Linked DNA regions of Homo sapiens. The protein of the gene in region 1 purifies or fractionates together with the protein of each later gene. This does not show direct contact. Each region holds a gene or a part of one and is shown in the gene's direction. Other genes may lie near its edges. The genes, in order: TRIM55, NUP93, PFKFB4, HACD3, ARF4, CPVL and ATP2A2.

Region 1 (4,461 bases):
CACCTCATAAACATGTATTTATGTCATTCTTTTACATGCCAAATCGGTCCCAAGTCAGTTACATGTTTGAAGTTGTACAGAGGTTTCATTATATGCTCATCTATGAGTAAGTGGTGCCTCTGGGGCTGGGCTACAACCTAAATAAGAAAAACCCAATGAGGAATATGGGAAATTGTTCTCAGTGTATACAGCACCATGAAAAAAATAAATAAATTGAATCACAAACAAAACTAAATGTAGAGCCTTATGGCTGTTTTCACATTTTCAATATTTGCATATACTGCATAGACCTGTGCTCTATGACGCAATCTCTGGTCACAGCTGTTGATATCAGAACAGCATGTGGGACCCAAGCTGCCCACTCTTGCTTAGCCCACATTAATAATAAGGTGGAGATACCTACGAGGGAAGGGTTTAGAGGGGAAGAAGCCTTTGACCAGGCAGAGACCAACTTGCCAGTCCCAACCCCAGAGGGCACTGTCATTTATTAAAGGAGTAATCAGGATGTGGTCTGGTCTCTTCCTCTGCCACTCAGGAGTGCCAGGTGATCCCAGGCTTTCCCCATATTTGCCATGCCTTCTCCAGCTGGGTGGTGTTACACTAGAGCACAGGGAATACTGTCCATTTAATAGGTCAAATTCCCTTTCATTGTCTCACTCATTTGTGCAACAAATATTTATGGAGCCACTGCCTCTGTGCAAGGCACTGTTCCGAGTACTGGAGATGCAGCAAAAAAAAAAAAAGACTCATCATGGCCCCTGCCCTTATGGAGCTGATATTCTAGTGGAGGAAACAGACAGACCTGAGAGGAGGATAATTTTCTCAATTGTGGAGTTGACTTCCTTATTTGAGTTCCAAATAATGTGGTCAAATCAGAAGGTCATAGACTTCATGGAAAGCATATTGCTGCAAGACCAGACAGAAATTCCTTTTGCAACAGTCAGATTCTAAAATTTTGAAACTGGAAGTCCGTGCAATTTTCTTACAAGACCCAGGGCTTCTCCCAATGTTTAGCCTAATCTCAAGTAATTGACGTCCACCTAGCAACTTATAAAGGAACATTAGCGTCTTACAGAGGCACATCAGCACGTTCTCTGCCTTTCTCTGAGTTCTGGGTCTGCAGCTACAAGATACCACACATCAAAAAAGATGGGTTTCAAACACTTGTATTCATGATTTACAGTAGGAAGTGCATTTTACATTGTGACCACTTACATATATGGACGGATATATATACACACACATATGTATATACACACATACACAAACACACACACACACACAAACACACATATACTTTTGTTTCAGTCACATATATACACACGTACACCTGAAACAAAAGTTTCGAACAGCAATACTTATTTTTACTACATGTAATTCACAGTATTTGCTATTCCATTCTATTTTTATTTTAACAATGCAGATCATAGCTCCCTAAATTGATTTCATGGCTCATAAAAACCTGTAGTTTTTAAAAATTGGATCTGTATAGCAACAAAACAAAATGTAGTCCCAAATCTAAGATGTTGCTAAATAACTATGTGTTTGGAAATTTGAAGAAAGCTTCTGGATTTGGATTTGAATTTTTTGAATACTTCTGAAAACTATTAGCAGCCTCAGTCATTAGATAGGATATATCAGAATTCCTGGGGTTTATATAAGGAGGTACACCCACACTTGCGTCTCATACACATTTGCATCCAACCAGTACTTGAATTAATAATCAGAAGATTTTGGTTCCATGTGAGCCACACCTATCCTCATTTCTTCAGGTGAAAAGGGTCTTTCCTGGGGCCAGAGGCTGGAGGGGGGCGATCTAGCTACTCCTAAAAGCTGGTGCAAACTCGACTTTTAGTTCATCAACAATTTCCTGTTCTTGGTCCATAATGGGAAAGTGTCCCTTGAGAAACTTGTGAGCATGTAGACACAGTGCTGGACCACGTTCCTGATGGCTCACCAGGGTTCGATATTCTACTTTCAGGAATTTCACTACCAGATTCTGAAACCTTAAATAACTTAAAATTGGCCATGTGGAAATACACCATGGAAATGGGCAAATGGTACAAATCAGGATCTCCACGTCTCTGTCCCTACCCCAAGCAGGTTGTTAGAGATTTGCCAGCACTCCCCTGCTACACCTGCAGGGAAGCTGAATTTGGTGGGCTCTGAGCATGTGAAAGGGCCCCTGGGGGTCTTCTGGAATAGAATTGCTGGGCATACAGGGAAGAGAAGGAATTTGCAAGGCAGAGCAACATCAGCTCTGCCTTGATGAGATTGCCCCAGTGAGAGCTGATGGACATTTATCTGCCTACCTCCTCCCAGGCCAGAAAAGAAATCCGACCAGCCCATGTGCGAGGAACATGAAGAGGAGCGCATCAACATCTACTGTCTGAACTGCGAAGTACCCACCTGCTCTCTGTGCAAGGTGTTTGGTGCACACAAAGACTGCCAGGTGGCTCCCCTCACTCATGTGTTCCAGAGACAGAAGGTAACAGAGCTGCTCCCTCCCTCCCGCAACCCCTCCCCATCCCCACACCTTAGGGCCTTCCTGGGGCCAGTGTGAGTGGCTCCCTGCGGTGGAGGAGGAAGCCCAAGCCACGCAGGGCCATGGGACACTGGAGGGCACACAAGGTCTGCAGGAAGACATGTGCACAGTTGTGCACGAGGCACACACCAAATTCCCTGGACGGTGGGGGACCAGGCGAGACAGGGCAGGGGTGCCCAGGTTCAGGAAGTGGTGCAGAACGGCACGATCCCTGTTTTTGTGCCCTTTGGAGGTTGCTGATGATGAGCAATGTTAGGGGACCCAGCAAAAGCTCAAACTGCTCCAGCTTATGTGAAGTTTAGACTACAGATAAGAAAAGGACAGCTTTTTACCCTAGTCACAGAATACTTTCCTTCATCCACCCATGAAAGATTTCTTTGGCCCTCCTCAATGCCTTTTATCCCGCACTCTTAGTGAGGGAGGGTTACACTGATGACATGCAGTTACAGAACAGCTTTAAAACACAGACTTGTGCTGGCCCTCCTGTCACCAGGGCCAGTTGCCTAAAAACCCCTCTGAGTGTGGTGTCTCCCCCTGACCCCAGGGCCTCAGCCATGGCCCCCTAATTCTGAGCAGACAGAAAGACAGTGTCTCCCTCTACACATTACCAACCTGCCAACCTGGTTTCATTCATGAGCAGGTCAGAATTTATCCATCTGGTACAGATAAAAGTGGAGTTGGGTACTCCAATAGGTGCAGCCACTCCAGGCACCGAGAACTTGAGCAGTTCCACTACTCAGTTTCTTTCATTTAGAATCATCAGTTCCACATTTGATCAGTGTTTTACTGTGAAGATCAGTGCTGAAATCAAATTTGGAAGCAAAACTCTTGGGCAACACCAATTACAGCTAGTGGCCACTAAGTCCTAAAGAAACAGATTTTGCAAATTATCCACAACATTTGTTTATTTTTGAATCCAGTTACAATTTATTCCCCCTTCTCTTCTGCCCACCTCCCCCAAAGCATAGCATAATAGAACTGGATGGTAGCTGTTTCACACTCCTTCCTTCAGAGCCTGGAGACTCATGTGAGATGGACAGAAGAACAGACTGGTGGGACCCTCACCCTTGCTCCTGTTTGGCCAAAGCAGCTTCACCTCCATATTAGCTTTCACTTGAAGAAGGTTCTGCAGCTTTAAAATATTTTATAATCACTGTTCTGGTCCAATCTTCTCCTTCTAAATGTGAGAAAATTAGGGTCAAAATTGAATATATGTTTTGCCCAACATCACAGAGAAGTTGGGGGTAGAGTTGGACCAAGCGCATGGGTCTCCCAAGTGCCCCTCCAGTGCTCCTGGTGGCTCCATCAGCCAGTCTTGGGAAGGGGGTAAATAGGAACAATAGAATCTCTTCCTAAGTCAAAAGAGCAAAGGAATTTAAAAGTTGACATTTCTCCCCTAGAACTAGTTCTTTGTTTCAGTGTGAAGTTTGTAATGACTTAGTCTAATGTGTGAGTGTTTGTGTCTGTATACACTATATTCTTATGCCCATAATAAGTATTTGTTGAATAAATGAGTATTTACTATACACATTTCCCAAGTAAAATTGACCCTTAGTTCCACTAGGCAAATAATTCCATTTGGGTCCCTGAAGTCACATATTGGTCTCCATGCTATTTATAAACAATACTTAGAATTCTTTAGCTTGAACATGTTGATCTTAATATTAAGACTGATGAAAACTGTGAAACCTTTCCCTGCACAAATGGATTCATACACAAAGGTTTGCTTGCAATATCAGAAGGTCCACAGGCCTCCCTGTTAGTCCTTAGGGGTTGCATGGATCCTAAATTAAGAACCTGTAAAGACAATATTATGACCAATTCACAGTCGGGGTGGCTAGGAAACCCCTAAGATATTGGGTTCATGTTTTCTCTTCATTAGTCTGAGCTCAGTGATGGCATCGCCATCCTCGTGG
Region 2 (3,500 bases), on another chromosome or scaffold:
TTATCCCATTCATCCCATTTGATTCCCCTCTTTTTTCTCTGAAGACTTATGGAATATGTTTATATCTTTGTCCAATAATTTGAGTAAACTTTTTTCCTTCCACAGTTCGATATGATTCTTGGGAAACTAGAGAATGACGGAAGTAGAAAGGTGAGTTAAATGCATCCTTAGAGAAATGTTCGTTAGCCATTGGGGATTTATAAATATCAAAAAATACACTTAGATTTTAAGATTCAAGGTACTAAAGATGCAAATCTGAACAGAGTTGCTTAATTTAAAAAATGGAATGAAAATTATGGGCCCAAATGATGACCTTGGTTTTACACACACTTATATCTCCTTAAAATATGTTAATTTGTGATTACATAGCTTTTTTATTATGTTCAGAATATTCATTTGTTCATGCCTGTCATTTTTTGAGCTGAGAATGCTATTATACATTTCTGCCATTCTTGGCTCAGAAAACATGCAAGGAAAAGAAATTGATTACTGCACCCATTCTCCCAAGATGGGAAAGTTAGACATGCACTTGACCTCCTTCAAAATGCAGTTTCCAAGGGCTTTGAACTCCACAGTGACCCTGGAAATACTTCTGGAAGCTTGAGGGATTTCAGGACTCACTATGCCCATTGGTTGTCATGGCAGGAGGGTCAGAGATCCTGTTGTCAGAGACCAGTCATGACCCTGAATCTCCCTGTGGCCCTTGGAAAGTCACTTGTCCCTCAGGGGCTGAGTTTTCTCGTTTGTAAAAATGAGTGATTTGGACCCAGCAATCTGTAGATGAGCTCACACTGCTCACACCATCTACCTCAGAAGAAAGGCAAGTGACAGTGCTGATGACAGTGGCCTTGCTTATTGGGCAGTGACAATCAACAGGCATTGTGCTGAGTGCTTTGCATAGTTTCTTCTTTAACAGGCTGCACTGGGGCCAGGAGGCTCCTACTGTATGTGAGTTGACAGAGCTAGAAACATAGATAAGACCTTATCCTCTGCTACCTCCCAAGTGGCAGGGCAAGTCACCTCAACCTGGTCCAGCCACCTTGACCTGGTCTAGCCCTGAGAGTCCAGCGCTAGTGGAGAAGCAGAATGGCCAGGCAGAGATGTTATGCACTTGCCTTCATTCTCCCAGGGTGCCTAAGGCCTCTCTCATGCTCTCCTGACCATTTAGTTGCTGTTGAGTGGTGATGGTGATTTTTTTTTAAGAAATGTCCTGTTACCAGCCGGGCGCGGTGGCTCACGCCTGTAATCCCAGCACTTTGGGAGGCCGAGGCGGGTGGATCATGAGGTCAGGAGATCGAGACCATCCTGGCTAACACGGTGAAACCCTGTCTCTATTAAAAATACAAAAAAATTAGCCAGGCGTGGTGGTGGGTACCTGTAGTCCCAGGTGCTCGGGAGGCTGAGGCAGGAGAATGGTGTGAACCTGGGAGGCAGAGCTTGCAGTGAGCCGAGATTGCGCCACTGCACTCCAGCCTGGGAGACAGAGCAAGACTCTGTCTCAAAAAAAAAAAAAAAGAAATGTCCTGTTACCACTTGCTGTGTGTTTTTTCAGCACTGAGTTCCTTTTGCCATCTGTCTTAGAAAGCAAATCCAAAATTTTTCAGATATTTTTTCTAAGCCTCCTGATTTTTCTCTCTAGTTCCTACTTATCAGCAAATTTAAAATCATTGATTTCACTGACTCTCTGGGTCATTTTGGAAAATTAGAAAGCACAGATGTCTTATTGCTGACTCCTCTGTGCTTCTAGTAAGTCTGCCCTTTCATGTGTAGTTTCCTTGGTCTCTTTTATAGTTTTAATAGGACTTTATATCTTTAAGAAAGCCAGAGTCTGGCTGATGAAATATATGCGTTGCCCAGGGCAAGCAATTCCACTTGAAGTATTTTTTGGATCCTAATTGCTTCTCTGTGTTTAAAATAATAGCTCTGTGCACCCGTCTCTCTCTTCCTCCCCCTCCATAATTTGTCTTGTCAGCCTGGAGTCATAGATAAGTTTACTAGTGACACAAAGCCTATTATCAACAAAGTTGCTTCTGTGGCAGAAAATAAAGGACTGTTTGAAGAGGCAGCAAAGCTGTATGACCTTGCCAAGGTAAAGTGTGCCCACTTCCTTCTTTTGCACTTCACAGGTCTGCTGGCCTTTTGGCATTAAATGTGCAGCCACTTGGACAGTGTCATTGTTGTAGCACCCTCCCTGCAGAGGCATTTGCTCTAGTGCTTAGACAGTTAATGGTCCAGTCAGGACAGAATTCCCATTTTACAGCATTATTTCTGCCCATAAGATTTTTCTGACCAAACAACATATTGAAAGGATGTCCTGCAGGCATTGAACTGTTGTCTCACTTGGCAGCAGAATTAGCATCCATCACATTTCGATGGTGAAGCCACTGTTGAAAATTACATTATGCTGACCCTGGCAACCACAGACACACTGGGGAACAGTGGTGTTAGAAAATAAGACCACATCAGTGTGCAGGAAGGAGTGAAAGAAAATAAGACCTTAGCTGGGCGTTTTGAGAGGACTAGAATACATGTTTCTACCGAAGAACAAATGATGACTAAGAACATATGATAACTGCTAAGGATTCTATGACCTAAACAAGATTACATTCTCTCCTTTATCAACTGAGAAAAGTAGACAAAAAAACAGCTATAGGCCAAGTGCAGGGGCTCACGCCTGTAATCCCAGCACTTTGGGAGGCCAAGGCAGGCGCATCACTTGAGGCCAGGAGTTCGAGACTAGCCTGGCCAACATGGCAAAACCCCGTCTCTACTAAAAATATAAAAATTAGTCAGGCATAGTGGTGCATGCCTGTAATCCCAGCTGCTCAGGAGGCTGAGGCACGAGAATTGCTTGAACTTGGGAGGCGGTAAAAAATGTCACCCCAGAAAGTTCTCTTTGGTGGGTAGGGGGCATTATATAGTTGTTCCTTTTATTGATTACTTTATTGATTGCTTCCTTAATTTTAAAAACTTGAGCAGAATGCTGACAAGGTACTGGAGCTGATGAACAAACTGCTGAGCCCTGTCGTCCCCCAGATCAGTGCCCCGCAATCCAACAAGGAGAGGCTGAAGAACATGGCACTCTCCATTGCCGAACGGTAAGCCAGGAGCTGGCTCCATGGGACCCTGAGGGTGCCACTGCCAGTGCCAGGCCACCTATGCCCACCCAAATGCATGTTCAGCTTTACTAGGTAACAGCAGACAGCTTTCCAAAGTGGTTCTACTAACTCACCATGCCACCAGCACTGTGTGAGTTCCTTTGTCCCCGCATCAGAACTAGTACTTGGTACTATCAAACTTAACATTTTTGCCAAAGAAATGGGTATGAAAGGGCATCTCAGTATTTTAATCATGCACATAAAGCTTAATTTTAAGCATTATGCTCGCCTAAATACTGTTGTATACTTTCATCAGCCCTCTCAAAGGCATTCAAGACCAAAGCTAGTGATGGTTGGATGGGGGAGATTCTTAGAGGTGTCGTGGCCAGTGTTTCAGACTAC
Region 3 (4,693 bases), on another chromosome or scaffold:
GGTCAGTGCCTGGCTGGATGGGGTTGGGAAGGGGGCCTGGGCCTCCAGCTCTTCTTTATCAGCCAGCTAGTCCTCCCATTTCGTCCCCACCTTTGTCCCTTTTCTTAGCAATGCCACTGCACCCTCTGGAGTGCTCTGGTCCTGCACAGGTGGTGTGCTCTGGTTGGCCAGCACCTGTGTTTGGTTTCCTACATGACTCTGAGTCCGTCACCGTGGATCTCTCTGACAGAATTGTGTTGATGTCTCCATCTCCTGTTGTCTCCTTTTTCTCCTGTCATCTCTTTTTCTCTTTATCCTTCTGTTCCCATTTTACTGGGGTGTCAGGATGGAGTAGAAATAAACATAGGTTCAGTTTACTAGGTTTAACTGGTTTCACTGCAATTCCTGTTGGTCAAACACAAACTGAGTGCCCACTGTGTGCAGAGCAGCACTGAGTAGGTTCTTCTGTGCCACGGGTCTGCTCCCCTGCTGGGAGCACAGGCATCCTCTCCTTCTAACTTCCTTGGGGCATTCTCTCCAAGGAAGGGGAGGGCCAGCCCAGCCGTTGCAAGTCTGGAGGAGACTGGCCAGGCAGGTGGACCTGGCAGCAGCTGGTCCTTATGAGAAATCCAGTCCCCAGAGAGCCTGTGCTGCGGCCCTCACTGCCCACTTCAGGGCCCACTCTGGCCCCTTCCTTCCCCAGGGCCAGAGGCTGAGTTAACCCTAGTTTGGTCCTAGGTTTTTGATGCCACAAACACCACCCGAGAACGGAGAGCGACCATCTTTAATTTTGGAGAACAGAATGGCTACAAGGTGAGGCCTCCTTGGCTCCTCTCCTTGGCGGAACTGTGGCATGTCCCCTGCCCTCCAGGGCTCCTTTCACCGCCTGCTTATGCATGAGGGGCATGGGGCTGGCATGGCTCCTGAGTGTAATTTGGGATGAGAGGGGCTGTCTCCACTTGGGGTTTGCTTTCCAGAGGGAAGGGGGTTTTCGTGGGAGAGTCTAGGAGAGGGCAGCACCTGCTTTAGCTCTGGACTCCTTGACCCCGCCTCCAGCCCTCTGAAGCAGGGTTTCAGGGCCTGGCTGCTTGTCAGCATGGGCCTCAGGGGATGGAGAGCTCCGAGGAGCAAGGCGGGAGGCCCTGAACATGTCCGTGTTCCTCCCTCCCACCACCCCGGCGCTTCTGGTCCTGCCGCAGACCTTTTTTGTCGAGTCCATCTGTGTGGATCCTGAGGTCATAGCTGCCAACATCGTGGTGAGTAGTGCATCTGACCTTGTCAGAAGGTCGTGTGTGACAGGGACATCCCTTTTCAGGTTTTGGCTAACCTTAATTTGATCTTGAACCTTGTGGGGGTAGGGAGGAAGTGTAACTTCAAATGCTGGGTCAGGTATGCCTCGCCCTCTGTGGATCACTGTGGAAGGCTGGGTGGCTGGTGGACATTCACTCACCCCACCTCCGCCTCGTAACCACCTGGACACTAGGAGAGCACCTTCAGCAGGGGTGGAAGGGTGGGTGAGGGGCATGTTTTATATTTCAGAGAAAGAAAGACTCATTCTTTCCTTCCCCTCCCCCAGTTTATCTGAGGAATGGGCATCTGGGTCTGGGAAAATGAGAGTTCAGGGTGGGGAACGGCCTCCAGGCCTCCCCCTGTACCACAAGGATGAGGGACTTCAATCCCTGGACCCTCAGTGATACCCTCTTGGCACTGGTGTGAGAACTCAGACCAGGGAGCTGCTGGACCAGCCCCCACCTCAGCTTCCAGCCTCAGGTTCCCGCACTGGTCTCCGGTGCAACCTCCTCCAGCCCCCTGCCCAGCAGTCTCCTTGGTCTCTGGCCCCGCCTGGCTCCTGACCCTGATATGTCCTTTCTCTGTGCCTGGCTCCGGCAGCAAGTGAAACTGGGCAGCCCTGACTATGTCAACCGCGACAGTGATGAGGCTACGGAGGACTTCATGAGGCGCATTGAGTGCTATGAGAACTCCTACGAGTCGCTAGATGAGGACCTGGATAGGTGAGTCAGGGCAGCGCCAGGCCCTGCAGCTGTGATGGTGGGCGGCAGGGGTCATACTTGGCTGCCTCCTATGGCTCCCCATGGTGGTGGCTGGAGGACCAAAAAGCAGAGATGGTCTGACCTTTCTTGTTTATTTCCTTGGGGCAGAAATGTTTGGTCAGAGGTGACTTGCAGAACACCGGTTACCTCATCCAAAACTCTGCGAGTCAGGATTTTATACTATTCCATCATGAAATCAAGCCGAATTTCTATGCAAGGGGTCTTAAAGCAGGGGTTGGCAAATATTTTCTGTCAAAGATCAGAGAGTAAATATTTTATTTAGACCTTGGAGGATGTACAGTCTCTGTTGCAGGCACTCACTCTGCTGTCACAGTACAAATGAAACATAGATGATATGTAAATCAATGGGCATAGCTGTGTTCCAGTAAAACTTGATAAAAACAGCCCACGGCTGAGTTCGACTGGCTGGCCACAGTTTACCAAATCCTGTCTTACAGAACACATGGGGCAGTGGCTGGGTAAATAATAATGTAGCCCTTGGTGAAGTATTACAGTCATCATTACAACTCGTCATTGTGGAGAGACATGGGAAAATATAATATTGCATTCAGTGAAAAGGCTGGAATACAAACTTGTGCTTAGGTTCTGTAATTCTATAAGATTGTGTAATACGGGCCGGGCAGAGTGGCTTATGCCTGTAATCCTAGCACTTTGGGAGGCTGAGGCGGGAGGATTGCATGAGCCTAGGATTTTGAGACCAGCCTGGGCAACATGGTGAAACCCCGTCTCTACAAAAAATACAAAAATTAGCCTGGTGTGGTGGCGCATGGCTGTAGTCCCAGCTACTCGGGAGGCTGAGGTGGGAGAATCACCTAAGCCCAGGGAGGTCAAGGCTGTAGTGAGTTGCAGTTGCACCACTGCATTCCAGCCTGGGTGACAGAGTGAGACCCTGTCTCAAAAAAAAAAAAAAAAAAAAAAAAAGGATGCACATGAACCAAGAAACACAAGCAACTCTGAGATGAATGCTTTTGGGGTGTGCATAGAGCAGGGTCCTCAGCTGGGTTCTAGAGCCAGCCCAGGCCGGGCCTGAGCTGAATGGCACCTGCCACCTGGGCCTCTCTATGGCTTTCATGGTCCCCCAGCACAGCATTTCTCTTCATGGTTCTGTGATGTGATCCATTTGTCTGGAGCGGCTTCTGTTGGATTTGTCAGTAAGCGTTGCTCTTGCTTTTATTGGTGGTGTCATCGTGACACCCCCAAACCAAGGTCCCAAGGTCCAGACAGTGAGAGCTCAACTGAGAATATCCAGAGGACTCTCAGCCTGAACCAGAGCCCACCCTGCACCCCCACACCCAGAGACTGATCAATGTGCTGTCCAAGCTGCAGTGCCACATAGGTCCAGAGTAGGGAAAGTGGCTGAGCTGGACTTATCGGCTGCCACCACCAGCACCATCCTCCTGTGCTTCCTGTCTCATCCACCAGCTGCCCAGGATGGGGTGTGGCAGCTGCTCAGCACACTTGGATGACCAGGACTGGGCTCTAGTGGGAGGAGGTCACTGGGGAAGGAAAGGCCAGGTCCTTGTACAGCTGACCAGGAAGAGTGAGGGCGTGGAGCGTTTGCCAGCTACTCCCAAGTCAACAACCCTCGGGAAAACTGTCTCTTGGTTCAACTTACAGACAGTGTATTGAGAGTGCGGAGATAGGCCAACAGGGGCCCCAGGGACACATGAGCAGCGGAGAAAGTCATGATGTGGTATGGCGGACCCCCCACTTTGGATGTCACCTTTGGGAAGCATGATGAGTGACGAGCACCTCCCATCTCCCGTCTCCCACAGGGTTTGCCTGTGCGTCACACGCACTGTGTTGCTCCCGCCTCACCCCCATCACTCGCACACCAGCTGACGGTCCTGAGGGTTGTAATCTCTGGTGGTTGGAAGTGCAAGGCCTCGCAGCTAGATTCCGTGGCTAGCCAGATGTGCTCTGTGAGAACCCTGGCCACGCTCACAGGCCTCTTTCTACTTTCTCTCTGGACAGGGACCTGTCCTATATCAAGATCATGGATGTGGGCCAGAGCTACGTGGTGAACCGTGTGGCTGACCACATCCAGAGCCGCATCGTATATTACCTCATGAACATCCACGTGACCCCCCGCTCCATCTACCTCTGCCGGCACGGGGAGAGCGAGCTCAACCTCAAGGGCCGGATTGGCGGGGACCCAGGACTGTCCCCTCGGGGCAGGGAGGTCAGTGCATGTGTCCCTGCGTGCGCACACGGGCCTGCATTTGTACCCTGCGTGGCTGGGTATATGCATGTGTGAGTGCGCTGGGGCTAGGCTCCCATTCTTTTAATGTGCAGTCGAGGTGAATGACCTTCATTCAACCTAGAATCTTCCCATCATGTAGGGAAGGTCATCAAGCAACAGGCAAATGCCTGGATCTCTGGTTTCCATGTGAGCTGTCACTCACTGAGCCCCTTTTGTCAGAGGCATGCCACCCTTAGAGCGACCTGAGTCCATACAGTGTAGCAGATAGCTGTGCCACAGTCCAGGGGAGACCTCAGTGGTCACGTAGCACAGGGCACCTGGTTGTGGGGAGGCAGTGGCCCTGATGAGTCTCAGCTGTAACTGTGCTGCTGTGCTCAGGGTCTGGGAGGGTGCACAGGAACAGCACTTGTGTTCTTGTGTGTCAGCATGTGTGTCATCG
Region 4 (4,693 bases), on another chromosome or scaffold:
TCAGCACTAGGAATAAAGCCAAAAAACATCTGAGTATCCAGTCCGTTTACCGAATAAAGAGGGTTCCTTTGAGACCTAAACTTAGTCTGCCATTAAAGAGCGTTCAGATCCTTTGAAAATTTAGGGCGCAGTGTGGCAGGAGTTTATGGGTTGATAGCCAGCGTTATAATTCTGTTCTGAAGAAGCCATGTGTGGCTGAGAAATAGAATTCTTCTATTTAAATGATATTCTAAGGTTGCATTCGGAACCTGAAGTGGCTTTTCACATTGGAATCATTTATTTTCAATAGGTACTCTTTCTACATGCTGACGTGCATTGACATGGATTGGAAGGTGCTCACATGGCTTCGTTACACTCTGTGGATTCCCTTATATCCACTGGGATGTTTGGCGGAAGGTACTCTCAGGGACTCTTAGCTTTCATAGCTTAGCTCCAGGGGGTACCCAGAGGCTGAGAGACCAGTCCTTTCTTCCCCGGCCTTAGTCCGATAAATGGAAATGTTGGATTTTTCAGGGATTTCTTTCCATGGGCTTCCTTCCATAATACTCCTGGTACCCAGACTGTTCGAGAAAAGTAGCTCATTTTGTAACATTGGAAAGCCAGGTGGTTATGTCCTGCATGCTTCCCATTTGTATGATGCTTTTAGTATTCCAAAGGGGGTTCTTACTGATGACTTTATTTTATTCTGACAAACATCTCATACATAAGTCAGCTAGGGATTTTCCTCTCCATTTTATAGAATAGAAGAAGCCCACTACCATGACTTCCTCATCTGTCTCTCTGTTGACAGGTTGGAGGCTGATCTCTTAGAAAAGTAGGGGAAAAAAAGGAGAGGCATGAGCTTTCTGTACAAAGGGAGGAGAAAGCCTTTCCAGCACACCCAGAACTGAAACTTTAGAGTACTAGGACTGGAAGTTCCTGTCATTAAATGTGACTGTTTCATTTGCTTCTAACAAGTTCTTGTTTCTGTTTTCAGCTGTCTCAGTGATTCAGTCCATTCCAATATTCAATGAGACCGGACGATTCAGTTTCACATTGCCATATCCAGTGAAAATCAAAGTTAGATTTTCCTTTTTTCTTCAGATTTATCTTATAATGATATTTTTAGGTAAGTATTGATTCTTTAATACAGACTTTTTCTTGTCACTTCTTAGACAGTAGAATTAAATCATTCAGAAATGTAAAAGTCCATATGAGAATTCTTTTGGGACAGAATTAGAGAATGATTACTTTGCAAAAACAGACCCACTAGGGGAATATGCTATGGTAAGGAAATATTTCTTTTCTAAATCTCCAGCAGTTAAATTATGTTCTTTAAGTGCTCTTGGTGATTGGGAATATACCATAAGATATTTCTTGTTTAAAACAATGTAAGGGGACAGGCATGGTGGCTCACGCTTGTAATCCCAGCACTTTGGGAGGCTGAGGTGGGCACATCACAAGGTCAGGAGTTCGAGACCAGCCTGATCAACGTGGTGAAACCCTGTCTCTACTAAAAATACAAAAATTAGTTGGGTGTGGTGGCGGGTGCCTGTAATCTCAGCTACTCAGGAGGCTGAGGCAGGAGAATCGCTTGAACCCGGGAGGCAGAGGTTGCAGTGACCTGAGATTGCAGCATTGCACTCCACCCTGGGCGACAGAGCGGGACTTTGTCTCAAAAAAAAAAAAAAAATAAATAAATAAATAAAAATTAAAAAAAAAAAAGTAAGGAGCCTTTTAAAATAGACTAAGAAGCTCCCACTTTTACTAATTTCAGTAGCATATTCCTCATCCAGAGTTTATAGAGGTGATAAGACAACCAGCAGCAAGGAAGGAAGAAGGGAATAAAGGCCTCTGAGCAGCCAAGGGTTGTCATAAAGCCTTCCACCTCACAATAGGAAAGTCCCCTGCTCCTCATGGAAAACCTGCTGACCTATTAATTTATATAAAATCATAAATTCCTGCCTTTATAAACTAACAGAAGGGAAAAAGAAAGAAACCTAAATTATTACAAATATGACAAATTTAAAAGGCTTCCTAACTATAAGGATTTTTTTTTGTTGTTGTTGTTGTTAAATTCTTATTAGAGGCCAGGTATGGTGGTTCATGCCTGTAATCCCAGCACTTTGGGAGGCTGAGGTGGGTAGATCACTTGAGGACAGAAGTTTGAGACCAACCTGGCCAACATGGCAAAACCCTGTCTCTACTAAAAGTACAAAAATTGGCTGGGCTTGGTGGCGCATGCCTGTAATTCCAGCTACTTGGGAGGCTGAGGCAGGAGAATCGCTTGAACCCAGGAGGCAGAGGTTACAATGAACCGAGATTGTGCCACTGCACTCCAGCCTGTGTGACAGAGCAAGACTCTGTCTCAAAAAAAAAAAAAATTTATTAGTAATCAGTATTTGGTAATTTCTAAATGCAACTATACATGATTCTACCCATATTATCTATACTATACTCTATACATAGATGTGAAAATACATACATTCTTATGTGTAGGTTAAATACAATTTGAGAAAAATAATTTTTTCCTTTTAAGAGCAAACTAATACGTATCGATTTTAGTATGACAACTAAGAACATAAAAACAGAATGAAAGGAATTTTGTCATTAAATATATTTGAGAGGAGAAAACACTGATTATCATACATAGAACTTTACATGTTTAAGGATAAGACAAGCTCCTAACTATAAGGACTCTTTAAAGTTCTGATACATTTTAGTGGTAATTTATATATTTCTCCTTGCTTTATTTCACAAAAGACTTAAGGTGGCCCTAAATAAATATAACTGTCCAGTCTCCTAGCCACAGAAGGATGCAACAATAGTATATTAGTTCTCTATTGCTGTGTAACAAATGACCCCCAAAACTTAGCAGCTGAAAACAATAAATAGTTATTATCTCACATAGTTCCTGAAGGTCAGGAAGCAGCCTGGCTGGGTGGTACTGGCTCAGGGTCTCATGAGGTTTCAGTTAGGCTGTCAGCTGGGGCTGCAGTTTCTGTAGACTTGACTGGGGCTGGAGGATCTGCTCCAAGCTCACTCTTGTGGCTGTTGACAGGAAGCTTCAGTTTCTTGCCATAGCCCGTCTCCATATGGCTACTCATGGCATGGCTTCCCCCAAAGCAATTGGTTAGAGAGAGAGAGCCCGAAGCCACAGTGCCTAATCTCAGAAGTGACAAATCATCACACAGACCAACCCAGTATAACATGGGAGGGGACTACACAAAGGTATGAAATAACAGGAGATAGAGGTTGTTGGGATCATTGTCACGGCTTGCTACCCCAGACAGTGAGAGGAAGACCACGCAAGGTAAGCCCAGGAAGCCAGAAAGCCCAGTGGTCTTGGTCATTTAGTGTTGCGGGAGGAGAGACTTATACCATAGTATTAGGAGCCCCTTAGTGTGCCAGTGCCTGGCAGATGTACAGTTAAATAGTATACATTGTAGGCCCACGTCATTTGCAAAAGGTTAAAATTTCTTTCTTTTTTTCTGTTTCAGCAAAGGGTATAATCCATTTCAGAAATATTGCCAACCAAAAATATTAAAATGTTTTGCCCTTGAAGAGAGGAACCCTCAGTTCAGAAAATGTACTAATTAAAGACAGCTTTTTACCTTTATTACTGTATAAATTCAGTATAACTAGGCCCCATGAAATGGGCATAAGATAAAGAGGAATAAATATTGGAAAGACATTTAAAATATTTTAGTGAACAGGGTAGAGGGGTAGAAATATTTTAAAGTGCATTGACTTAGTATCTTTTTTTGTGTTGTTTATATTGTACACTCTAATTTGCAAGATTTTATGTTCATATCTACTTTGCTTATAGTGAATATGTAGTTGCTCTTTTCTTATTCTTTAGAATGAAATAAATCCTAATTTCACATTTATAATTTTGAAGCAGTGTAAACAGCCAGTTAACATTTGTATATAGGTCAAAGGACTTTTTAGTTTTTTTTTTTTTTTTTGAGACAGAGTCTTGCTCTGTCACCCAGGCTGGAGTGCAGTGGCACGATCTTGGCTCACTGCAACCTCCACCTCCTGGGTTGAAGCAATTCTCTTGCCTCAGCCTCCGGAGTAGCTGGGATTACAGGCACCTGCCACCATGCCTGGCTGATTTTTGTATTTTCAGTAGAGATGGGGCGTCACAATGTTGGCCAGGCTGGTCTCAAACTCCTGACCTCAGGTGATCCACCCATCTTGGCCTCCCGAAGTGCTGAGATTACGGTCGTGAGCCACCACGCCTGGCCATGTTCTTGAGTAGGCTTGAATTAAAAATTAGGTTGTTTCTGCACTTTAGATTTGTGCATTTCATTGTAAATTTTACTGTAAAAGAAAGAAAGAATATTGAACTATACCTACCTGAAGAATTAGGGGGGTGAGGTGTATTGATATCTGCAACTTAACACTGAAGTGCATAAAAAATGAGATGGCTGGAGGGATAGATGAATAGGGATGTGATATAGCCAATATAGTAAAAAGCAGTAAATCTAGATGTTCCCTGTATAATGATTTAATCTTTTGCGTGTTTGAAAATTTTATAAGAGAAAAAAATGTTTTAAACTCACTGGGAGGCTGGGTGTGGTGGCTTACGCCTGTAATCCCAGTACTTTGGGAGGCCAAGCTGGGCAGATCATTTGAGGTCAGGAGTTTGAGACTAGCCTGACCAACATGGTGAAACCCCACCTCTACTAAAAATACAAAAAATTAGCCA
Region 5 (4,693 bases), on another chromosome or scaffold:
AAGACAACCATTCTGTATAAACTGAAGTTAGGGGAGATAGTCACCACCATTCCTACCATTGGTAAGAAAGTTTACAGATGACTTTATATCATGATATGTTGTAAAGTGAAATATATACAGTCTAGTTTTGAGATTGTCTTTTTGTTAAGCATGTTGATTATCTTAGAAGTACTTTTAAAACAGGCCGGGTGTGGTGGCTCATGCCTGTAATCCCAGCACTTTGGGAGGCCGAGGCGGGTGGATTGCTTGAGCCCAGGAGTTCAAGACCAGCCTGCATAACATAATGAGGCCTTGTCTCTGTTGATGTTTAGGCTTAAATATATTTTTTAAAAATAAAAAGAAGTACTTTAAAAACACTATTCTAAGAAAATTCCACAATAAAAGGTTTTATTTTCTTAATGACGCTGCACAGCGGTCATTTTTGTTTTTCTTTGTAGGTTTTAATGTGGAAACAGTAGAATATAAGAACATTTGTTTCACAGTATGGGATGTTGGTGGTCAAGATAGAATTAGGCCTCTCTGGAAGCATTACTTCCAGAATACCCAGGTAAGGGATACTGTATGTTTTTATAACTTTTCTTTGTGGGTTTCATGCTCTAAAGTTTTTATTAGTATCTAGTATTTACTTGGATATTGGTGTTTACTATGAGTTGGCATTTGTCTTATCACCACTTCCACATTCTTCAGTGGACTCTCACTTAGGCCTTGAAGGCTAACTTATATAGGGTGGAAGAGTTGTAAAGCAATTGCGGTAAGTGTTTGGAAGATGGGGTGGGTGCTGGTGTAGTTCACAAGAATGAATTAGGTCTCTTATCCGTAGTTCTTTGCTTTCCATCTTAGTTTAGAAAGTAAGGTCTGTATAAACTGTCATTGTAGTTTCTGATGAATGTAAGACAATTGATAGTCCTTTGTTTAGCCCAGTTACTTGTTTACTTTATTAAATACAGTAAAGTCAGTTCGCTGCATTGATTTGTAAGATATTTTTATATTGCCACATAGTATGTATATATAATACTGGCATGGAAGAGACTTTAGTGATCCTGTAGAACAGGAGTTCTCAAATTTGGGGGTGGCACGTAAGAATCACATGGGGACCTTTGAAAATCCCAAGACCTGGATCATCCCCTAGATGACTTGAATCAGAATATCAGGGGATATAATCCAGGTACAGTAGTGTTTCTTAAACTTTAATATGCATATCAATCACCTGGGTATTTGTTAAAAATACACATTGAGTCCATAGGTCCTAGCTAAGGCCTGAGATTCTGTATTTCTAGCAAGTTCTCGGGTTGTGCTGATACTACTGGTCTGGTATCTTACAGCACAGCACTATTGACATTTTGGGCTGGGTTATTCTTTGTTGTTGGGTATGGGGAGGGCTCTCTATGCATTGTAGGTTGTTTAGTGGCATCCTTGTCCTCTACCCACTAGATGGCAATAGCAGCTGCCCTCAAGTAGCAGCCAAAAATCTCTCCACACCTGCAAAATATCCCCTGGGGGCAAAATTGCTCCCTGCTGAGAACCACTGTTCTAATCTAACTCTCTTACATATGAGGAAACTGAAACTTGGAATGACTTACCCAAGATGGGAGAGTTTGTTCTCACTCTACCTTTGTTTAACCTGGTCCCACCTCGATTGTGTTTTCTACCACCCAAGGAATTTCTTGTCAGTTTTTTTTTATTACTTAATAATTTTTTTTAAGTGTGATATCACTGCCACTTTATATTTTTAAGACTTGCAATGTCATCTTGTTATCAGCCTCTTAAAACATTGCATACAAGTGGGGTTTATTGCCATCAGGTGGCAGTGAATACCCTAGGTGAGTGGCTGGGACAACCAGGTTTACATAGTATGTCATATTAAATAAGTGGTATACTTTTTTATTTAAAAACGAGAATGTTTAGGCCAGGCACGGTGGCTCATGCCTGTGATCCCAGCACTTTGGGAGGCTGAGGCGGGCGGATCACGAGGTCAGGAGTTCAAGACCAGCCTGACCAACACAGTGAAACCCCGTCTTTACTAAAAATACAAAAATTAGCCGGGCGTGGTGGCGCGCACCTGTGATCCCAGCTACTCAGGAGGCTGAGGCAGGAGAATCACTTGAACCCGGGAGGTGGAGGTTGTGATGAGCCGAGATCACACCATTGCACTCCAGCATGGGTGACAAAGCGAGACTCTGTCTCAAAAAAAAAAAAATAGTAGAATGTTTATGGTCATCAATATAGCTGTGACTAGAAAAGATACTTGATACAGAGGCACATGCTTTAAAAAGCTTCCTTATGGAAAATGTTAAATACAAGGTGAACATTCCTTATCCGAAATTCTTGGGACCAGAAACCACTGTTTCTGATCTCAGAATTTTGGGGGTTTTGGAATATTTGCATTGTACCCAGTTGAGCATTCTAAATCCAGAAATCCAAAATCCGATATACTCCAGGGAGTTTTTTCTTTGTTATGTTGGTGCTCGGGAAGTTTTGGATTTGGATTTTTGGATTAAGGAAACTCAATCTGTACACCTACAAATAGAATAGCATAATAAACTCACATGTATGTATTATGCAGCTTCAGTTACTAGGATATAAGCAGTGCTGTGTTGTTTCATACTCATCTCTAATGTGCTCTACCCTCTAGACAGTTTGTTTATTTTTTTTGAGATGGAGTTCTCGTCCTGTCACCCAGGCTATGGCGCAATCTTGGCTCACTGCAACCTCTGCCTCCTGGGTTCAAGCGATTCTCCTGCCTCAGCCTCCCAAGTAGCTGGGACTTCAGGCATGCGCCACCACACCTGGCTAATTTTGTATTTTTAGTAGAGACGGGGTTTCACCATGTTAGCCAGGCTGGTCTCGATCTCCTGACCTCATGTGATCCACCTGCCTGGGCTTCCCAAAGTGCTGGGATTACAGGCATGAGCTACTGCGCTTGGCCAATATATTTTGAAAGAGTTAGATATGAAGTAAAACCTTGCTAATCCTTAAGCCTAATAATTCTTGACCAAGGGTAACCCTGGGTTTATCCCTAGATTTGTTTAGAATGCTTTGTAATTTACTTTGCATTCTTAATTTGAAATTAGACCCAATTCTGGCCTCTTTGGACCATCTGAGAATTAAAAGTCTAAGTACTGCTTCCTAGGGAGTTCATGCTAGCTGGGGAAAGCTTTATGTGTTACCTGATAGAATCAAAGCTAAGCTCTTAGCTTGCATTCCCAGCATTACTGATCAGTTCTCCTAGCTATAAAATTTAAAAGAAACTATAGCTTTAACCATGTTTCTAACTTATACTAACAAACCATGGCACAGTGTGTAGTAAATTCCTCTTATAATTCCAACTAATTTGCCATTGTAAATAAGTAAATATTTGGCTTTTCAAATAATTTCATAGCAGCTGGGCTTATCTGTAGAATCCTAGCTTTTCTTCACTCTTGATTCTAGGCTGTTCCAGGAAGAAAATAATTAGGGATTAATACCTAAAATAATTCTCCTTCTCAATAATGTCACTTTGGGACTGATAGCATTATTTGCATTTTAAAACAAAGGCTGGGTGCAGTGGCTTATGCCTGTACTCTCAGCACTTTGGGAGGCTGAGGTGGGAGGATCGCTTGAGCTCAGGAGTTTGAGGCCAGCCTGGGGAACATAGTGAGACCCTGTCTTTACATTTAAAAAAAAAAAAAAAGAATAAAAATGGGAAGTTAGCAGTCAAAATAAAATTAGGTCCCTTTTAGGGGCATTACCTCTTGTAAAGGGTAGGTTTCAGGACCGGGTGCTATGGCTTATGCCTGAAACACCAACACTTTGGGAGGCCATGATACGAGGATCACTTGAGGCCAGTCCAGGCAACAGAGTGAAACCCTGTCTCTACAAAAAAAAATTAAAAAAAAATTACCTGGGCATGGTGGCATACTCCTGTAGTCCCAGCTACTTGAGAGGCTGAGGTGGGAGGATCACCTGAGCACAGGAGTTGGAGGCTGAAGTGAGCTACAGTTGCGCCTCTGTACTCCAGCCTGGGGGACAAAAGGAGACCTTGCCTCTTTTTTGAAAAAAAGAAGAAACAAAAAAATGGAAGGTTTGGTTCTAAAAAGGAGTAGCTTTTGAAATATGGAAAGGAGGAGACATATTTGCTAAATAAATGCCCATGATAAGCCAAGAACAATGATCTTTTATATCTCTGTGATTGCATTTAATCTTTAACAAGCTTATGAAGTTAGTATTTTTATTTTATTTAGACGAGGCATAGTCAAGGATTAGATAATATATATAACAAGTAGTATAAGATTTGAATTTGAGTCTGTCTTCCCACCACACTATATTGGCTCCCAAAGCATCAAACATTATTTTTTGTTTTTGAGATGGGGTCTCACTCTGTTACCCAGGCTAGAGTGCAGTGGCATGATCATGGCTCACTGTAGCTTCAGTCAACCTCCTGGGCTCATGTGATCCTCCCTTCTCAGCTTCCTAAGTAGCTAGGACTATAGACATGTGCCACCATGCCCTACTAAAATTTTAATTTTTTTCGTAGAGACAGGGTCTTACTCTGCCCAGGGTGATCTTGAACTCCTGACTTCATGTGATCCTCCCACCCCAGCCTCCCAAAGTGGTGGGATTAGAGGTGCCATGCCAGCCAAAAGTTTTCTCAAAGGATAGGATATTTAAAGTGATGGTTTTCCAGGTGGTATAGATGCAGTGTAAAATAAAATTT
Region 6 (4,693 bases), on another chromosome or scaffold:
AAAATAATTTAACCACTTTCCCCTGATTATTCCTTAAAATGAAATTCCCTTTGGCACACACCACTTCTCATCCTTTCTTGAGAAAGGAAGAGTTGCAGAGCCAAAAAGATGACTGGCCGTGTGTAAGAGCCAGATTTCTCTTATGTGTTGCTTTGTTACATGAATCCCAATGACGTCAGGGATAAATGAAATCAACTGGTTATTCTGAAAATGCATTTTGCCTAATGGTTGTATTCATTCACTTTACCCAATCACAGTGTTTTGAGTCTCTCCTTAGGGTGTGAGGTTGAAATGATGAATGAGAAAGGGTCCCTGTTTGGAAGTAGGTCAAGTCAAGCCATTGTGCTGTCTGGTTGAAATGCTCTGCCTTTGCTGCCAGTGGAGGTGCCAGTGGAGAGTGAGGTCACAGAAAAGGAGCCCTGGAGGTTCAGGCAAAGAAGACATGGGCCCTGGAACTCCCACTGGGAAGGAGGACACCAAGAGCAAATGACATGGGGAAAGTCAGCCTGTGTATTATTTCTTTCCTGGTACTACGCTCTCAGCTCCTCCTCTGGTCCTCCAGTGCTGTTAGCCTTTGCCCAAGGGATCGTCTCTAGGGCAACTCCGAAGGATGCCTGTACTGATGACTGGGGAGACCACCACTGAGTGATCCACTTCCTCCCTATATCCTGTTTTGAATGAACAAAAAACAGGGCAGTCGGCAGCCCATAGGATTTTTGTATGAATTAGAATAAAGGCATCCTCTCCTCAAGATACTTTATTTCGATCTTTCAGAAATTGTCCTGATATACTGCCTTAGTTAAAACCAGACTCTTTACTGCCATTTGCTGGCATGCTGAATATTCATTTCTACAATGTGTATATTAGGAATGGTGTGTCTTAGGATTGTTCAGTGCACAATCTGCAATACTATCCAGGCAGTCCCTGGCCAATGCACCCTAACTAGACTGTGGTTTAGAATATGCCAGACCTAGGAGGCCCATTTCTGGGTCCTGCTTCTAGTACAGTGTTGGACACGTAACCATTGTTGAAAATAGTTTAAGACCAATTATATGCCAAGTCTACAAACCCATTATAAACCTGCAAAACTTGATGAAATACTTACTTTCTTGGAAAGAAAGAGTCTAACTAGGTCAGGCCAGCATTTCAGCCATCCTTGTGTTTGGTTTTCTTGGGGACATGTAGTGGCCCTTAGTGCTTGCTGCTTCAAGACTTCTCAGAGGACCTCCAGAAGGCACTGCTGTTTGTCCTCTCCTCTGAGCTCTCAGAACGCGTTGTCTTTACCCCCATAGGTGTACATGGCACACTCTAACGTGCAGACTCTCAGTCTGACACCCATACCACCACCAGCCTGGAGCAGATGTCAGGAATGAATGAATGATTAGTGCTGTATCAAAAATATATCTATAAACCTGTCCATAATCCATTAGGTGCTTATTATCCACAAATTTATTAAACCAAAAAGAGGTTAGCGTTCATGTCTTAAAGATGATGTTCTGTAATGTGATGTTAAGGAATGGAACGAGTGAATTTTTTTGAGAGGAGAGCAGATAAGTTTGATATGTGTTATTTGTGCCCTTGGGAGATATATTTTCTCACTGTACACACTTTTTTTTTTTTTTTTTGAGATAGAGTTTTGCTCTTGTTGCCCAGCTGTAGTGCAATGGTGCGACTGGCTCACTGCAACCTCCACCTCCTGGGTTCAAGCAATTCTCCTGCCTCAGCCTCTCAAGTAGCTGGGATTATAGGCATGTGCCACCATGCCCAGCTAATTTTGTATTTTTAATAGAGATGAGTTTTCTCCGTGTTGGTCAGATTGGTCTCAAACTTCTGACCTCAGGTGATCCGCCCACCTCGGCCTCCCAAAGTGCTAGGATTGCAGGCATGAACCACCGCACCTGGCCTCACTGTACAAATTTAACTAGAATATGATTCCTTTCTCAGCCATGTGAGGGTAAGGTGGGACAAACAGCTTACCTGATGACATAAACTCTCCTTATGTTTTGACTGATAAAGGAGAATATATTGATTAGAGGTGATCCTGCATTTTGATATTTAAACTTCTCTGTCCCTCTTGCCCATGTATCCTAAACTTACCACTATGAATTCCAATAAAATCAAAATCCAGTATTTTCTAAACTTTTCTTTTCTTTTTTGAGACAGAGTTTCACTCTGTTGCTCAGGCTGGAATGCAGTGGCACGATCTCGGCTCACTGCAACCTCCACATCCCGGGTTCAAGTGATTCTCCTGCCTCAGCCTCCTGAGTAGCTGAGATTACAGGCACATGCCACCATGCCTGGCTAATTTTTTTTCCGTATTTTTAGTAGAGACAGGGTTTCACCATGTTGCCCAGGCTGATTTCAAACTCCTGACCTCAGGTGATCCACCCGCCTCGGCCTCCCAAAGTGCTGGGATTACAGGTGTGAGCCACCGTGTCTGGCATAAACTTTTCAACTCTGAATCGGTTGCCAGAAAAAGAAAAGAGTTTAGTGGTATAGATAAACCATATTTCCATAAAGAAACAGAACAAAATATGCCACCAAAAAGTGGCTGCTGCTAAAACAGACAGCATGTTCACTCACGCAGCTGGCAAAGCGCTTGGGATAGTGATTATCTTTGGCTTGTCTGTTAATGATGTTGAACCTCAGTGTTCAGAACGGGAATCAGAACAACCTAGGTTGGCTTAAAACGTTAGTACCATTAAAGTCATATTTATGTAAGACTCGGTACTAATTTGTCATAGAAAATAGCATGCCTGTTTCTATTCATAGGAACTAGAGGTCTTTTTCCAGTACTGGGTTCATTTTGGCCAATGTGGAGCATCTCTGATGGTTGAAGGAAGACCTTCCTGGGTTTCTGGAATTACGTTTTCATGTAGTTTCTGTATAAAAATTAGCTTCTCTGTAAACTACGTTAGTTTCTATGTAAGCTACGTGAAAACATAATCCTTTTCTTACAGTGATATACAGGAGATGCATACTCAAAAGTCATTTTCCTTTCAGTAATTTCAGATGTTTGGGTGGTAAATTGAAATATCATATTGGCAGTTTCAAAAATAACTAGAAAGAGAAACAATCTGTTGGGCTATTTGAATTCTTTATGACTGAATGAAGTCAAAACATGATCAGGACTTTTAGGAGTTAGCTGGTTAATAGAGTATGGTGGTTATGAACATGTTCTTAAGTTGCATATCTTGAGTTTGAGCTCTGGTTACACCAGTCACTGGCTATGCTCCTTTGGGAGAGGAAACTTAAACTCTCTGCGCTTTGGCTTCCTTGTCTATAAAACAGGAATAAAAACAGTATTTATGTGTGAGTTTCTGTGAGGTTTAAATGAGATTATATATGTAAACACACTTAGAAGAGTGCCTGATGGTTAGAAGGTGCTTATTTATATATATATAAGCTATTACCAAAAATGTTCAACAAATTTTGTGAAAGTCTTTAAGATCTTGCTACATTCAAAAGTTATACAAGAAACCCTGGAAAACACAAAAATAAAAAAGAATGGACAGGCTTCCAGTTTCCATTCCAGTGTGTAAGAAGCTTAGAAGTCTCCACTCCATTGTAACAACAGTAAAAAGCCAAACAAACTGAAATATAATCAAGAACTCTTTTTAGATTTGTTGAAACTGAGGTCACAGGGCAAATTGCTGCCCTCCAAAATTAGAGAGAGAGATGAATATAGGGAGTCAAAACTTAACAGGAGCAAACCTGTAAGTAGAACCCTCCATGGAAACAAATGGTGAGGAAGGGAAACCTGAACAGTAATTGGTAAATTACTAGAGGCTCCATAGGGACAAGTCTGAGAGTTTAAAACACCATGGGTGGGGAGAGGACTCAGCCAAAGGTCACTTGTAAATGACCTTTATTATGTTGAGGGACTTTTCTTGTATACCCAGACTGTTGAGTGTTTTTATCAAGAAAGGATGTTGGATTTTGTTGAATACTTTTTGTGTCAATTGAGATGATCATGTGGTTTTGTCTTTCAGTCTGTGATGTGTCACTTTGATTAACGTACCTATGTTAAACCAGTCTTGCATGCTAAGGGTAAATCCCACTTGATCATGCTGTAGAATCTTTTTGGTGTATTGTTGAATTTGGATTGCTAATATTTTATCGATAATTTTTGCATGAATGTCAGAGTTACAGCCTTGCAGTTTTCTTTTTTCTTATGATATCTTTGCCTGGCTTAGGAATCAAGATAATACTTGCCAAAAAATCTATGATTAATATGCTAAGGATTTTAATGGAAAAAGTAGACAACCTGCAAGAACAGATGGATATTGAAAATAGAGATATGGAGATTATAAGAATCAAAAGGAACTGTTAGAGATCAAAAACACTGTAACAGAGATAAAGAATGTCTTTGGTGGGCTCACTAGTAGACTGGACACAGCTGAGCTAAGAGTAGCATGAGGATGTAATAAATAAAAGCTTCCAAAACTGAAAAGTAAAGAGAACAAAGACTTAAAAAAATTTTTTTTGAATAGCCTTAACTGTGGGACAACTACAAAAGATGTAACATACACATAAAGGGAATACCAGAACAAGAAGAAAGAGAAGGAAATGGAAGCAATATTTAAAGCAATAATGATTGCAAACTTTCCCAGATTAATGTAAAACATCAAAGCACAGATTCCAGAAGCTCAGAAAACATGGAGTCAGATAAATGCCAAAACAAAATAATCAA
Region 7 (3,366 bases), on another chromosome or scaffold:
ATACTCTAGATTTTGTTTTGCTTTTTCTGACTCCAGTGGGGCAAGATTTTCCTTTTTTATACACATAATTAAAGTGTCCATTGACATGTACAGAGAACTAACACTATTTTATGCAAATATTTTTTTGTAGATGAAAAAGCATGTACAGTGTTCTGTTTAATACTCATCCTTGTATAAAAAAAATAGTTGAGCCAGCAGACATTGTCAGCAAATTAATTGGCAGCAGATTTTAGGAAATGAATGTGTGTGGTTTTTTTTCTAAAACTAAATAGCATGTATTGTGTCTTTTGCATGATGATCCGGATTTAATTTGATATCACAGTCTAATTTTTATTCATAAGCCAATTTTTCTGCACTGAGCAGAGTCTTGCTACCTCAGTCAGTATTGTTTTGGTTTGCTACTTCCCTCACCCACTTTGGCCTCCGTTCACCCCACCCCACCCCACCTCTCCCCACCTTACCCCCGCCCCGCTTGGCTTCTTCTTTAGGATTGTGATGGTTCGTTCTGTTTACATCAGTTTTAACGAGAGGTATGCCTGTACTCGCTTGTGCAGAAAACATTGTTCCAGATTCAATCGACTGGGTTTATGTCCCTTCACATAGTTTTTAAGGTTATTTATTTAAATGTCTAATGTATTTTATTGTAACAGACATTGTTTTGCCAACATTGCCTATTTCAGTGGCACGTCATCTAGTTTTAAAAAAATAAAACATTTTAAATGGACAGAGAAAAATAACTGTCTTGTCTTTAACTCGTAAGTGGCTTACCTGGGACTAACAGACATGTCCAACTTTCTCTCCAGTTCTTAGCTCAGAACTTTAGTTGTACTCTGCTTGAGGGGAAGAAGGCTCCTGCTCTGCTGTGTAGGTAGTCATAGGAATTGTATTCTTAATGTACAGGCACTAATTGTCATCTGTGATGTACATTTTATGCAAGTTTCTGCTGGCCTGGTATAGAGAACATAAGGGCAAGTGTGTATGTGTGTGTATGTGTGTGTTTTGTAAAATCTGTAAATAGCACATGACCAAATGAACATATTGTATAGAACTATTTTTATTTGAATGTGGCACTAACCACCACCACCGTTACTACGATCAATGTTTGCGCATGTTCGAGATGAGTCTCACCAACAGTGTGTAAGTCATTAACAGTCCTAACTGTGGTGTTTTCCTCCAATGCCTTCCAACATCCATCAACTAACGTGAGTATTTTCTTCCTGGGATTTGGATGCTTTAGCCTAAAGGTGACTGCCACCAAGTGAGATAACTGTATGTCACTAACTTATAAGCCGCCTCCATGGCAGATGCTGCTGTGCTCCCTGATGCCCTGTGAGCACCGGGGTTGCCTGTGGCGCCTGCCATGTGACTCGGGCGCAGCATCAGCTGGCTGGAGGTGTGGCTTTCATAGACCTCCACAGGCTGCCTAGGACAAGATGACCAGGAGGGCCCAAGCCAGACAAAAGCCGGAGTGGGGAGAGAGGCATTTCAGCCAGACCAACAGGCTGAAGGAGCTGTGCAGACTATTGCTAAAATGAGGGTTCGCAGCTGCCAGGAGTCATCCCAGAACATTGCTACTTATTTATTAAAAAGCTAAAAACTAGTGAAAGCAAGTAACTGAACCAGTGAACTCTGGGTATCGATAGGTTCGTCTTAAATAGGCCACTTCCCCACTCCCCCACCCCCCCTTGCTTGGTCTTGTCCTTGGTGGCTAAGACTTAGCTCTGCAGGGGATGTTAAAGCACAGTTAGTAGGACGTGGCTCTGCACAGCCCAAAAACCAGCTTACTCCTTAGCCAGGGTGTGAGGCCTCGACTATATTCTTCAAAATGTACTTAGGCTCTGGTTACTGGGATGGCCAGTAGATGTAATGCAGATGGTTGGAGTTTGGGGAGGGTTAGGAGGCATCAAGCAGGACAAGGTGCTGCTGAGTTCAGAGGGCCCACGTTCAAGGGATGGAGGTGGAACCTGGAGACCGACTCTTAAAAGCACAGTCCGTGGTTGGGTGTGGTGGCTCATGCCTGTAAGTAAGTCTCAGCCCTTTGGAGGCCACAGCAGAAGGATTGCTTGAGCCCAGGTACTCAAACCAGCCTGGGCAACAGAGTGAGGCCCTGTCAAAAAAAAATCAGCCTTACTGTGAAGCCTCCAAGGCTGCTCGCAGGCAGCTGTGGCTCTCGGGAAGGGAGGCTGCTTTGCCCAGCAGGGAACATTTGGGGCAGGGGGTAAATTTTGCCAGTTTGAGCATCATGAGGTGTAACAAGAAATGGGTTGAATGGGCCAAATGCAAGGAGTGCATCTCTGGGCTGCAAACTGACTTGAGTGCTGCACTATTGCTATTCCGTGCAAACAAAACTCAGCTTTTCCTGACTCAGTTCCTTGACTTAGTGGCCTTTACAAAAAAAGTTGAGTAGTGTGTGGCCTGCTGTCGCACAGCCCCTAGTTAGCTTCATGGTTTCTCAGCTTCAGACCCCTCCAGCCCACAGAGGAGCCCATGGAGGGACCCACTTCCCTTGGTCCAGACAGCTGGGAGTGGGTTAGGCCCACTGCTGTTTTGAGCAGGGCCACTTGCTCCATTTCACTGAAGGCTTTGCTGGGTGAAAACACTTCAGCATCTCCTCCTCAGGTCAACCCATAAAGACCAGGTCCAGCACCGTGGTCTTGGCACATCCCTGGCCTCAGGCCCTCACCTAACAGTGAGGCAGCAGCTGCCCAGCCCCGCAATGTGCCTGCTGTCAGGCAGCTCTTGCCTGAAACTTACTTCCACATTCTTTCCTGATGGGCAGGTGGCTGAAGGCCCAGCCATCAGTGTCGCTTGTTGCCACCCCGTGCCTCCCTTGGCCTCTCTGAGCTTTGCCCAGAAGACCAACAATCATACATACCCTAACTGGGACACCACTCTGCAGAATGCAGATGATCCATTCTGGAGGAAGCTGTCCCTTGAGCTCAGTGAGCTCCCAGGCAAGCAGGGCATCTGGCCGACTTCCCTCACAACAGCTGCTCCCACATCCCCTCGGACTGGAGCTTCAGCCCTGACTGAGGTGGGCAGACCTAAGACCTGAGACCACAAGATTAGCTCAGTGTCTACCAAGCATCTAGCCACTGTCCAGGGCCAGAGCATACCACGTCTGCAGTGCCTGTGAGCAGAGCCAGCAGTTGCCCTGTGACTGTAACCACCAAATTGTCCAAACACCCGCTGCAGTTAGCAAGAAGGGTAGGCTTCACCCTCCTTTACTGAGGAGAATGATGCGGAGGAGTTTCCTCTCCAGGGCTAGGCAAGGCAGGCGAGCAGCCAGAAGCCGGGTGCCCACAGGGCAGGGACAGGAAGGCTGTGCTGCTACTGGCTGCTCACTTCTCCATCAACCTCACCCTC

What was found.
Region 2: the proteins of TRIM55 (region 1) and NUP93 purify together in Homo sapiens (affinity purification with mass spectrometry, with the first as the bait; one large-scale study listed by BioGRID). This does not show direct contact.
Region 3: the proteins of TRIM55 (region 1) and PFKFB4 purify together in Homo sapiens (affinity purification with mass spectrometry, with the first as the bait; one large-scale study listed by BioGRID). This does not show direct contact.
Region 4: the proteins of TRIM55 (region 1) and HACD3 purify together in Homo sapiens (affinity purification with mass spectrometry, with the first as the bait; one large-scale study listed by BioGRID). This does not show direct contact.
Region 5: the proteins of TRIM55 (region 1) and ARF4 purify together in Homo sapiens (affinity purification with mass spectrometry, with the first as the bait; one large-scale study listed by BioGRID). This does not show direct contact.
Region 6: the proteins of TRIM55 (region 1) and CPVL purify together in Homo sapiens (affinity purification with mass spectrometry, with the first as the bait; one large-scale study listed by BioGRID). This does not show direct contact.
Region 7: the proteins of TRIM55 (region 1) and ATP2A2 purify together in Homo sapiens (affinity purification with mass spectrometry, with the first as the bait; one large-scale study listed by BioGRID). This does not show direct contact.

The regions. Positions count from the first base shown.
Region 1 is NC_000008.11:66,132,668-66,137,128, forward strand, and holds part of TRIM55 (tripartite motif-containing protein 55), read left to right. Parts: intron 1-2,322; coding exon 2,323-2,488; intron 2,489-4,427; coding exon 4,428-4,461. UniProt on the Homo sapiens protein: E3 ubiquitin ligase that plays an important role in regulating cardiac development and contractility, muscle growth, metabolism, and fiber-type differentiation.
Region 2 is NC_000016.10:56,834,629-56,838,128, forward strand, and holds part of NUP93 (nuclear pore complex protein Nup93), read left to right. Parts: intron 1-105; coding exon 106-150; intron 151-1,972; coding exon 1,973-2,089; intron 2,090-2,979; coding exon 2,980-3,098; intron 3,099-3,500. UniProt on the Homo sapiens protein: Plays a role in the nuclear pore complex (NPC) assembly and/or maintenance. May anchor nucleoporins, but not NUP153 and TPR, to the NPC. During renal development, regulates podocyte migration and proliferation through SMAD4 signaling.
Region 3 is NC_000003.12:48,535,796-48,540,488, reverse strand, and holds part of PFKFB4 (6-phosphofructo-2-kinase/fructose-2,6-bisphosphatase 4), read left to right. Parts: intron 1-717; coding exon 718-792; intron 793-1,178; coding exon 1,179-1,235; intron 1,236-1,869; coding exon 1,870-1,991; intron 1,992-4,025; coding exon 4,026-4,233; intron 4,234-4,693. UniProt on the Homo sapiens protein: Synthesis and degradation of fructose 2,6-bisphosphate.
Region 4 is NC_000015.10:65,571,259-65,575,951, forward strand, and holds part of HACD3 (very-long-chain (3R)-3-hydroxyacyl-CoA dehydratase 3), read left to right. Parts: intron 1-289; coding exon 290-396; intron 397-976; coding exon 977-1,108; intron 1,109-4,693. UniProt on the Homo sapiens protein: Catalyzes the third of the four reactions of the long-chain fatty acids elongation cycle. This endoplasmic reticulum-bound enzymatic process, allows the addition of two carbons to the chain of long- and very long-chain fatty acids/VLCFAs per cycle.
Region 5 is NC_000003.12:57,579,752-57,584,444, reverse strand, and holds part of ARF4 (ADP-ribosylation factor 4), read left to right. Parts: coding exon 1-61; intron 62-437; coding exon 438-547; intron 548-4,693.
Region 6 is NC_000007.14:29,058,876-29,063,568, reverse strand, and holds part of CPVL (probable serine carboxypeptidase CPVL isoform b precursor), read left to right. Parts: intron 1-4,693. UniProt on the Homo sapiens protein: May be involved in the digestion of phagocytosed particles in the lysosome, participation in an inflammatory protease cascade, and trimming of peptides for antigen presentation.
Region 7 is NC_000012.12:110,346,590-110,349,955, forward strand, and holds part of ATP2A2 (sarcoplasmic/endoplasmic reticulum calcium ATPase 2), read left to right. Parts: 3' UTR 1-803; coding exon of another isoform or gene 804-823; 3' UTR 824-3,366.